Regions from separate parts of the Homo sapiens genome. Here region 1 is linked to region 2. Evidence: fine-mapped expression QTL. A gene starts in region 2. The other region holds a variant in brackets. All regions are shown on one strand. Distances are from middle to middle.

Region 1 (5,374 bases), 48 kb after region 2:
AAATTTGGGGGTTTCCTGAAACCACCCTCAGGTTTGGTACTTTGCTAGAATGACTATCCAAGTGATCCTCCTGCCTCAGCCTCCCAAAGTGCTAGGATTACAAGCATGAGGTACCACACCCGCCAAATAATTCTTTTTATATTCTTGATACAAATACTTTGACAGATACATATTTTGCCGATATTTTACCCCAGACTTGCCTTTTCATTTTCTTAACAGTATTATTTGAAGAGCAAATTTTTAAAATTTTTATGAAGACCTAGTCATCATATTTTCCTTTTTGTGGTCTATTTAATATATTAATATATGCCCAACCCAGGGTCACAAAGACGTTCTTCTGTATTTTATTCTAGAAAAGTTCTAGTTCTAGTTCTTACATTCCGGTCTACTTTTCATTTCAAGTTAGTTTTTGCAGATACTATGAGGTAAGGGTTGAGGCTCATTTCTTTACATATGGATATCAATAATTACAGTATGACATGTGCAAAAGAGTCCATTTTCTCAGTGAATTGCCTTGGTATCTGTAAGGAGTTACCCAAACCACACAGTCAGACGGAACAATCCCTATAAGATTGCCCTGACTTCAGACACCAACTGCGAGTTTGCGGCTTCCTAAAACCACTCTCAGATTTGGTACTTTGCTAGAATGACTCACAGAACTCAGGAAAGTGCTGTGTGTACCACTGCAGCTTTATTATAGCAATGGGATATAAATTAGAACCAGACAAAGGAAGAGACACGTAGGGTGAAGTCTGGGAGGGTTGCAAACATGAAACTGCCACTATCTTCAGGAAAGTGTTTTCCTACCAGCACTGATGTGTGATAGTCTGTTCAGAGTATTCCCAACCAGGGAAACTTACCTGAGCTCTGGTGCCCAGAGATTTTATTGAGGTTTTCTTACAAACACGATTGGTTGAGCCCATGTGGTTGTACTCAATCTCCCGCCCCCTGTTCCCTAGAGGTTGAGCTGATACCATGTGTCCCCCAGCTCCAACCGTCTTATCAGATAGTTGGTCTTCCTGCCATGGCCACCCCCAACATGTTATAGCATAAAATATCAGGTGTAGTTCCAAGGGCCCATCAAATAACAAAGACACCCTTAACACTCAGGAAATTCCAAGAGTTTAGAGATTACCTCCCAGGAGATGGGGAAAAGGCCAGGCTTCTCTATAGGAGCCACATTTCTTGCTATATAAAATCTTTGTCAAAAGCAAATATAAAATGTGGTTCATATCCACAGGTTTAGGTCATACATGTGTATGTGTAGATCTATTTCTGGTCTCTCTTTTGTTCAATGATCTACTAGATGGAATTTTCTATGTAAAGAATTCTGTAATGATTTTTTAAAAATATGGAACCCTTGCAAATTTGCATGTCATCCTTGCGCAGGGACCATGCTAATTTTCTGTCTCATTCCAGTTTTTTTTTTTTTTTTTTTTTTTGAGACGGAGTCTCGCTTAGTTGCCCAGGCTGGAGTGCAGTGGCATGATCTTGGCTCACTGCAAGCTCCACCTCCTGGGTTCACACCATTCTCCTGCCTCAGCCTCCCAATTAGCTGGGACTACAGGTGCCCGCCACCACGCCGGGATAATTTTTTTTTTAATTTTTTTTTATTTTTAGTAGAGACAGGGTTTCACCATGTTAGCCAGGATGGTCTCAATCTCCTGACTTTGTGATCTGCCCTCCTCGGCCTCCCAGAGTGCTGGGATTACAGGCATGAGCCACCACTCCTGGCCTGTCTCATTCCAGTTTTATCAAATGTGCTATTGAAATGAGTGCTGTATAATTTTTAAACAATGTGCATACAATACTTCCATAGAAAGGAAAAAATGATAAGGATATAAGGAAAAATGATCTGCTTAAGCAGAAAAAAATAATTATACATAATAGCTGAAATACAACATTAGGGAAATTTCCCAGGAAATATAGCAAAAAGATAAAGGGATATAAAATAGTAGACAAAAGGTTAGGAAGTTAAGAGTACTAGTTCAGGGGATCTTATATCTGAATACCGGTGTTTCCAGAAAGAAAAAAGAGAAAAGAAGGGACAAAGCAATCAATGTCATAATTCAACAATAGAATGAACTGTGATATTTAAGAGCCAATAAGTAGCCAGCATCATTTTAGGGAGGAAGAGAAGATTTCATTGCCTCTAGAGATGAAAAAATTGGCTATATACAAAGTTTAGGAAGCAAAATGGATTTGGACTTCGCATCAGCAACACTAGAAGCCAAAGCACAATGAAGCAGTGCCTTTAAAATTCTGAGAAATGTAACTTGCAATCTGGAATTCTATACCCAGCCATACTATCAATTGAGTATGAGAGCAGAAAAAAATATGTTCAAGTATGTAAGATTTCAAAAACTTTTATCTATCATGCACTCCTTCTCTATAAGCTACCGGAGAAGATACTCCACGCAAAGACCAAGTAAATCCAGGAGGAGAATCTAAAATAGGAGAGAAGCAAGGAGATTCCCTGGGAGGATAGTAAGGGGAAATGCCATGATAATCGCTGTGTACAACATGTGGAGAACAACCATTTCCATGTGGAAAACTGTGACTCAAGAAACAGGTTGAGAACTGTCATCACCCAAAAATCCTCACTGATATCATACCTTGTTCAAACTTGAGGACGATTTATCCATATTTGTCACAGTTTCATTACATATTATGGAAATTCCCACTCACCTCTCTACACTCTGCTGGTAGAATCGGCTGAGCGTATTCATTTCATAAAACAGCCCGTTTCTGAAGTGTTGTGCTTTAGGCCTACTCTTGAGAGCTGAATGTAGGCTAATGAGCTTAAAAGCAGAAAATACAAAGCATCCTTCCCCCTCTGACCCTATTTCTACAGGGTCTTCAGTGCCTGGCCCATCCTGCAGATCTGCCAGATGCCCAGACACAGGTGAACCCTCATGGTTAGAGACTTATCCACCTGAAACTAATGAAACGGAAGCCCTTTATTCATATATGCCCTCCCCAAGGCCCTGTACCTAATTTAGTATTTGTAATTTTGAACTTATAATCTTACAAAAGGGTCCTCCAAATTATATAATCTTCAGACCCCACAAATCCTAGATCTGCGCCTGTGTACGATTGTTTTTTTCTTTTTTTTTGGCTTTCTCCCCTCCAATTAGGAAGATAGATGC[A/G]TGTTTTGTTCTGGTTTGTTTTCTTGTTTTGTTTCGTTTTTGAGACGGAGTTCCGCTCTTGTTGCTCAAGCTGGAGTGCAATGGCCAATCTCTGCTCACCCCAACCTCCGCCTCCTGGGTTCAAGCAATTCTCTTGCCTCAGCCTCCCGAGTAGCTGGGATTACAGACACACGCCACCACAGCTGGCTAATTTTTTGTATTTTTAGTAGAAACGGGGTTTCACCATGTTAGCCAGGCTGGTCTCAAACTCCTGACCTCAGGTGATCCATCTGCCTCGGCCTCTCAAAGGCTTACAGGCGTGAGCCACTGTGCCCAGCCTTGTTTTTGTTTTGAAATGGGGTCTCACTATGTTGCCCAGACTGGACCAGAACTCCTGGGTTCAAGTGATCCTCCCATTTCAGCCTCCTGAGTAGCTAGGACTACAGGCACATGCCGCCATGCCTTGCTCTTTGATCATGATTTTGTCCTCTGACTTCTCCAGAAGAGGCTTTTAAAGACTCAGGAAGGTTGAAATTACATTATAACCCAGCAACTCTATTCAGCTTGTTTTCCATGACCCAGCAACTCTATTCAGCTTATTTTCCCAGGAAATCTCATGTAATACTGGCAACAGTGCTCTTTCCTTACACAGCTAGCTTTGTGCTAGCCACTCAGTTATTCAAATCCAACCAGTAGATTGTTTAGGGATATGTCATATAGAGGGCAAAACTATAAAGCAAACAGTAACGACTGACATTAAAGGTAGTACCTGGGGAGGATGTGGTGCCCAGGGAAGCAGAGATTGCAGGGAGGCACACAGCTGAGCCTCAAGGTACTAGTGGGTGATAGGTGTTTGTCATTATTATTATTATTATTTTGAGACAGAGTCTCGCTCTGTTGGCCAGGCTGGAGTGCAGTGGCACGATCTCGGCTCACTGCAACCTCCATCTCCCAGGCTCAAGCAATTCTCCTACCTCAGCCTCCCGAGTAGCTGGGATTACAGGAGTGAGCCACCACACCCGGCTGATTTTTGTATTTTTAGTAGAGATGGGGTTTCACCATGTTGGCCAGGCTGGTCTCAAACTCCTGACCTCAGGTAATCTGCCTGCCTTGGCCTCCCAAAATCCTGGGATTACAGGCGTGAGCCACTGTGCCTGGCCTATTATTTTATTATTTTGAAAGAGGGTCTTGTTCTGTTGCCCAGGCTGGAGTGCAGTGGCGTGATCACAACTCACTGCTGCCTCTTGAGCTCTTCCCGCCTTAGCCTCCTGAGTAGCTGGGACTACAGGTGTGTGCCACTGCACTCTGCTAGTTTTATTTTATGGTTTTGTTTGTTAGTTTGGTTTTGTTGTTGTTGTTATTGTTGTTGTTGTTGTGTGTGTGTGTGTGTGTGTGTGTGTGTGTGTGTAGAGCTGGTGGTCTCATTAAGGTGCCCAGGCTGGTCTCAAACTCCTGATTTTAAGCCATCTTTCCACCTCAGCCTCCCAAAGTGCTGAGATGACAGGTGTGAGCCACTGCACCCGGCCTCGTTATTTAATCTTTAGATTGTACACATACTTTTCTCTAAATATGATACATTTTATAATTTTAAAGCCTGGAGAGGTGCCTGAAGGCTACTGTTTCCTCTCTTGGTTCAGGGCTGCAGCCAGAGAATATGTGCAGAGTCACTGTCAACAGCAAGTTAAGTATAAAAGGAAATAATGATTTTCTAACATTCTAATAAACCTGTGCTAGTTAGAGAGGATAGTGGTTACTGCAATAGAGTCCACTGTTTGCACTGGGAAGGGGTAAAGTCCAGCTGCCTTTTTCAGGCCCTCCTGGTAGAACAGCATTTTTCTGGCCCAGAGAGCATTCAGAATTTGGTCCTTACTTCCACATGTCCAGAAACTTGATTTTAGCCACTCCACTGGGACTTCTCATGCTTAGAGGGAATGCCTATGAATGAGCAGCCACTGTGAGCTCCTTGAGGGCTGAGATCATGCTTTATCCATCTCTAAATTCCCATTGCCTAGCAAAGAACCTACCTACAACAACAGAGTCCAGGGACCTTTCTGGCAACTTGCATACTCGTGTGTTCCAGACAGAACATGCATGCCTGCTCTGGAGGCACAGCTCCCTTCCTGGGGCCTGGTGGCCTGACCCTGAGGCTTAGCCCAGAGGTTAATCGCCCTTCCACCAAGGATACAGCACACCTACCTTCCTACCAGCCTCCTCATGCTGTCATTTACCCAGGCCAGGACTGGCTG
Region 2 (5,374 bases):
TCAAAGAAAACAGTCAAAACAGTTCACAGTTGTGTGCTAAAAGAAGGTGATCTAGTGTGTGACACCTATTAAGATGACATATCTGATTTATCACCAGAATCTGAGGTTCAGAGATGTTATGTTGCCTAGTCACATACAACTAACCTTATAAACCCAGAGACAGAAACCTCTGTGTTAAGCACATTAACACAGAGCTAGGTTTCTGTCTGTCTTCAAAGTCGCTTATACTGTAAGCTCCTTAACTTCTTTAATTTTTTTTTTAACAAAGAAGAATATTGTTACCTGAAAGTGTTGAGGATTAGTTGAGACCATATGTAAAGAAAGGAGCACTTTTCCTGGCACATAATGGTTTCTTTCCTTCTTCCATTCCATATATTGAATCAAACTATGCTTGTATAACGTGGTGGTTTTGTAACTACTGTGAATATGAGGTTTTAGAATATGAATATGCTTTATTCCTAAGATAAATAGTAATCTTAGGACATAGGCACTATATCATATTACTATGGATATACAACCTACTCAATGGTCAAACTCAGTGAGAATAAGCAGTGATGGGGACGCCCTATGGAACTTTATCTTTATTCTGTCTTTTTTCTCAGTCTCAGTGATGTTGGAAATAAGAACTTTATACTTGTGAATGACAACAAAGTGGTTTATAATCTCGAAAATCTTGAAGACAGAAATAGGATTTCAAAATGAGCTCGATAATGTGGTTTATCCAAAGCGGATTCTGTGTGTTGTATATTTGGTGACCTAAACTAACTATGTAAGTATCAACCGCCAAGCTCGGTGGCTAGCGCCTGTAATACCAGCACTTTGGGAGGCCTAGGCAGGAAGATCACCTGAAGTCAGTAGTTCACGACCAGCCTGGCCAACGTGGTGAAACCCTGTCTCTACTAAAAATACAAAAAATTAGCTGGGCGTGGTGGCACACACCTGAAATCCCAGCTACTTAGGAGGCTGCGACAGGAGAATCGCTGAAACCCAGGAGGCAGAAGTTACAGTGAGCCGAGTTCACACCACTGCACTCCAGCCTGGGCAACAGAGCAAGATGCCATCTCAAAAAAAAAAAAAAAAATTTAAAGCAACCAAATAGTGTCACTTTTCCTACCCAATCCCCTGACCAAAGCCAGGCATTGTTGTTCTAACAAGGCTCAAAATCTCAATTATTTCACTCTCTGCCTGATCTAATGGTAGGATAATGCAAATCAAAGATACCAGCAAAAGTTATGTTCTACAACAATCATTAATAATAGGTTTACTACTTCGAACAACTTCCAAGCACTGATTTGCCTTAAAGGGGTTGCAAACCAGGATGAGATGCCCACACACATTGATTTTTGGCAACTGTAGTCTATTAAGCAAAGCAACAAACCTCTAGAGAAAATAATGTCACATATATTCCAGTGAAACAAAATTAATACATGTACCTTGGTAAAGAGGCTGAGCTCTAACCAAAGATAGAGCACTGTTCATTACGTACTCACCCTTCAAAGGAATCAAATCGAAACACTTTCATTTTAACAACGATACTTTTTAAAGGCTTTATTTTGCAATAATCTTTCAAGTCCCTGCATTTCTTAGATTCCTTAAATTCTAACTTCCTGCCTCATAGATCTAAAGTAGCCATGACATACCCAGGTATGTTCTACTCATTTAGTTAGAATCGTATAGAGGAACACAAGTCTGTTTCTAGGTGTACGACTCCACACCCATTCATTTTGCACTAATATAACCACTAAATATAGCTCTAAGACACTGATGATTAAAAGCGGCTAATTATGTGAGTGATTCATACCTCCTATGTCCAAACACCAAGATTCAGGGATGTCTGTCAGATCTATGGGAAGAGGAAACAATAAACACCTGTCACAAAGCTTCTTCCACACCGGGAAGCCCCCAGCTGAGTTCCTGCCAATCCCAACCCGATTCCCTCCCCCTTCATCCCTACCCCTCACCTCCCCAAAAAAGCCAGAGGTCATACTTCCACCAGAACCTGACTCTGTGAAGGGAATGGAGAGACAGAAAGGCCATAGCGAGAGTGGCCACGAGAGCACTGCTAGGGCAAAGGGCCCTGGGTTTTTCTAGTCCTCACTGCCACAGAGTCCGAGTGGGAGGCCTCAGGCAAGTCAGAAGTCACTTTTCCTCCACGGGACTCACTCCTTTTATCTGTGAAATGCGGAGATGGCAAGCAGCTCCATACTCCACGGCTGAGGACGAGCTAGGGTCCCGCACAGACTCATCGAGGGCCCTGCCAGCACCCCTACGCCTCTGCCCACAGGACCTCCACCTCCCACAGGACTTTCCGAAAGCTCTGACTACCAACCACCAAGCGCCCGGCCCCCACGCTCGCCCCCGGCAGGCGGCGCGTCCCCCCCAGGCCTTCGCACCCACCGCGTGGGCTCCTGCCCTGGCCTCACCTGCCCCCGACACTCCCCGTCCCCGCGATGCCCAACTCCGGCCCGAGAAGGCTGGCCGCGACCTCGCCCGGTACCCGCCGCCCCGACACCACCATTCGCCTCCTCGACCTCCCCCGGCGCCGCTGCCCACCCGCCCCTCGCCCCGCTCACCGGGGCCGCTCACTGGCCGCCGCCGCGCCGCCTCCTCCGCGGCCTCCCTCGCGGCCGGACCAGCCCCAGGGACCGCGGGGGACCCGGCCGCCGCTGTCGCCGCCGCCGCCTCGCCTCAGCCCAGCCCCATCGCCCTCGGCCGGCGCCGCGCGCTGCGGCTCAGGGTGAGGGAAGGAGGCGCCGCGGCGGGGCCGGGCCGGCCCTGGGACGTCCGCGCTCTCCTCCTCCTCCGCGCCCGCGGCGGCGGCGTGCAGCCGGCAGGGCGAGAACAAGGGAGGGCGGCGGGAGGTGGGCAGGGGAGGGGGGCGGTCTGCACTCCGAAACGGCCCCCCCGCCGCCAGCGACGTAGAGAACCCCCCTCCCCTCCGCGGCGGCGCCCGATCACGCTGCGGGGAGAGCCGGCAGGCAGGCGGGGGAGCGCGCGCGGGCTCAGGACTCCCGCGCCGGATGTGAGGTCACGTGGTGGCTTCATCCCCGCGCGGAGGGCGGAGGGGCGCGGGCGACGTCAGGAGGCGGGGAAGGGGCGGGGAGGGGCGGGGCGATTTATAGGCCCCGCCCACCCATCGCCTTTGCCACCCTCGAACGGGCAAAAGAAAGAAAGAGGCAGGTAAGGGGAGGCGAGGCCGTCCAAAAACGCTGGGTGTCAGCCCGGGGTGGCTAATGGAGGGCGGCTTTTCTGGTGGGATGAAATGGAACGGCAAATCCCACTTCATCCCCTTTGGGCTATGACAACATCATAGTCCAATCTCCCATTTTATGAACAGGGAAACTGAGGCTCAGTGACTAGACAGACGTTGCCCAGAGTCATGGTCATGGAGGAAGCTTGTGCTAGAATGGTGGAGAGGAAACCAGAGCCCAGCTCCTAATGCAAGGCTCTTTCATTCCTTTAGCCACCCTCGCCCCCGCCAAAACAAACAGACAAAAAACTGTCATTCTCATATGACCACGGACTCTGCGCCCCGGCCGCAGGCGGAGGACAGGGAGGAGCGCACACGAGAAAGCTCCCACGCGCCCGCGCCTCGCCTCCGACGGGAAGGCGCCTCTTCCGACCGTCCTGGATGCAAATTAAATACTTCCCTCCGCAGAAGACTTATCTCGGGGTAGGGCCGCAGCCGGATTTCCAAATCGCGGGTTTGATTTTCGCTGCGTCCTCTCCGCGACGCGCGCAGGGAGCGCGCCCGGCCACCTGCAGCCTCTGGCTGCGGCCATCTTTCCGCCTGGGGCCACCTGGCCTGCGCCCTTTGTGCCCGGCCCGCTCCGTGACTGTTCTTCTTGCCGCTACTTACAGAACTCAGCCGCCTTAGCGTCTTAGAGAAGAGGACGGCATGCATGCGGACCCCGTCCACCACACCTGGAGAGCAGGGAGCCCTTAGTCCCTGGACACTTACCAGGGCCGCCACCCCTGGTCCACGCACGTGATGACATCTCACCAGGGGCAGCACACCGCCCGAGTCCGCGACACTGATAACACCTCCTGCGGGCAGGAGGGCGCCACAGCCACCCCTGGTCCCCTAGATTGTGTGAGGCTAGCATTTCTGCCCGCCTCTTGGCGTGGACAGCACGCTGGACCGAGATGGAACCACAGCTTTCTCTTCCCAATCCCTGGCCTCACCGTTTTGTTTCATACCTCACCGTTTGTTTCAAACCTCGTGGTGTTGAAATGATTAAATGAGATTAAGGGGTGTGTGGTAGTGTTGGGCAAACCACAAGAAAACGGTCTGGGTGGGGTCTGGCCCTAAAATCTTCCTCCCCCACCTCCCAGGCTTCCTTGCCTTGCTGCTTCCTCTCAGCCTTTAAACAGGTTGGCCTCTCCAAGTCCTAAAAACAAAATTATCAAGCCAACCTCCTCCTGAAGTGCTCCCTCCAACTAGCTTCCAAGTGTTTCATGCGGACCTCAAACAATGGTCTTCCCTGGCTGCCTCTGCTTCCTCATTTCTCAACACTTGGCATTCTGGCTTCTCCTCCCCAACTCTAACCCTTCACCTTGCTCAGGCAAGAGCAACTCATGACTTTCATTTTGCCAAACCTTGCAGGCATTCCTCAGGCCTTATCTCTCTGGTTCTTTCTGCTACATTTGACACCTTGGGATGACTCTCACCTTCTGGAATCTCTCTACTACCTTGGTTTCAGAAGAGTGAACCCTCTGGATTATCACATGAAGGTAAGTAAAGCCTCTGCCTCCTTGGTAACATCTACTTGTGAATCTGCACCTTAAATTCAGGATTCCACTCTAAGCCAACAACTTTGCTCACTTCACTCATTCTTCTGGGATTGCCTGCATCCTCATGGATGCAGCTCCCAAATTAGCAATTTCCAACCCAGACCCCTTCCACAAAATTTAGAACCAAATATCCAATTGCCTGCCAGGCAGCTCTAGCTAGATATCACAGACACCCCAAACTGGACATTTCCAAAACTGAACTCATTCTCTGCTTTCATAGCTGCCCCTCCCTCAGCTGTTGGCACCACCATCTCCACAGTCATCAGAATTAGAAAGTTGGGAATGAGTGAGTCATTCTTAATTCAGCCCTCTGCCTTACCCAATCACCAAGTCCTATCTATTTCACCTCCTTAATAAGCCTCAAATTCCTATGGTGGGCTGGGCGCAGTGGCTCATGCCTGTAATCCCAGCACTTTGGGAGGCCGAGGCTGGTGGATCACACGAGGTCAGGAGTTCAAGACCAGCCTGACAACATGGTGAAACCTCATCTCTACTAAAAATACAAAATTAGCTGGACGTGGTGGCACATGCCTGTAATCCCAGCTACTTGGGAGGCTGAGGCAGGAGAATCGCTTGAACC

Evidence for each region. PIP is the estimated chance that this variant, and not a neighbour inherited with it, causes the effect.
Region 1: its variant is the best candidate, but not a certain one, in a credible set for the expression of ATP13A3 in whole blood (GTEx, PIP 0.61).

What each region holds. Positions count from the first base shown.
Region 1 is chr3:194,532,158-194,537,531 of GRCh38, forward strand. It overlaps the pseudogene RNU6-1101P. Among named protein-coding and RNA genes, the nearest start is that of ATP13A3-DT, 48 kb to the left of the region's middle. RefSeq lists enhancers at 4,843-5,137, 4,863-5,157 and a silencer at 4,843-5,137. The variant A/G (reference allele first, on the strand shown) is at 3,150.
Region 2 is chr3:194,483,993-194,489,366 of GRCh38, forward strand. It overlaps ATP13A3 (ATPase 13A3), which reads right to left and starts at 3,010. Exons shown (of 34, transcript NM_001367549.1): 1 at 2,574-3,010; 2 at 1,802-1,843. It overlaps ATP13A3-DT (ATP13A3 divergent transcript), which reads left to right and starts at 3,148. Exons shown (of 2, transcript NR_033929.1): 1 at 3,148-3,180; 2 at 3,464-4,553. RefSeq lists silencers at 2,250-2,309, 2,400-2,449, 2,480-3,139 and an enhancer at 3,810-4,029.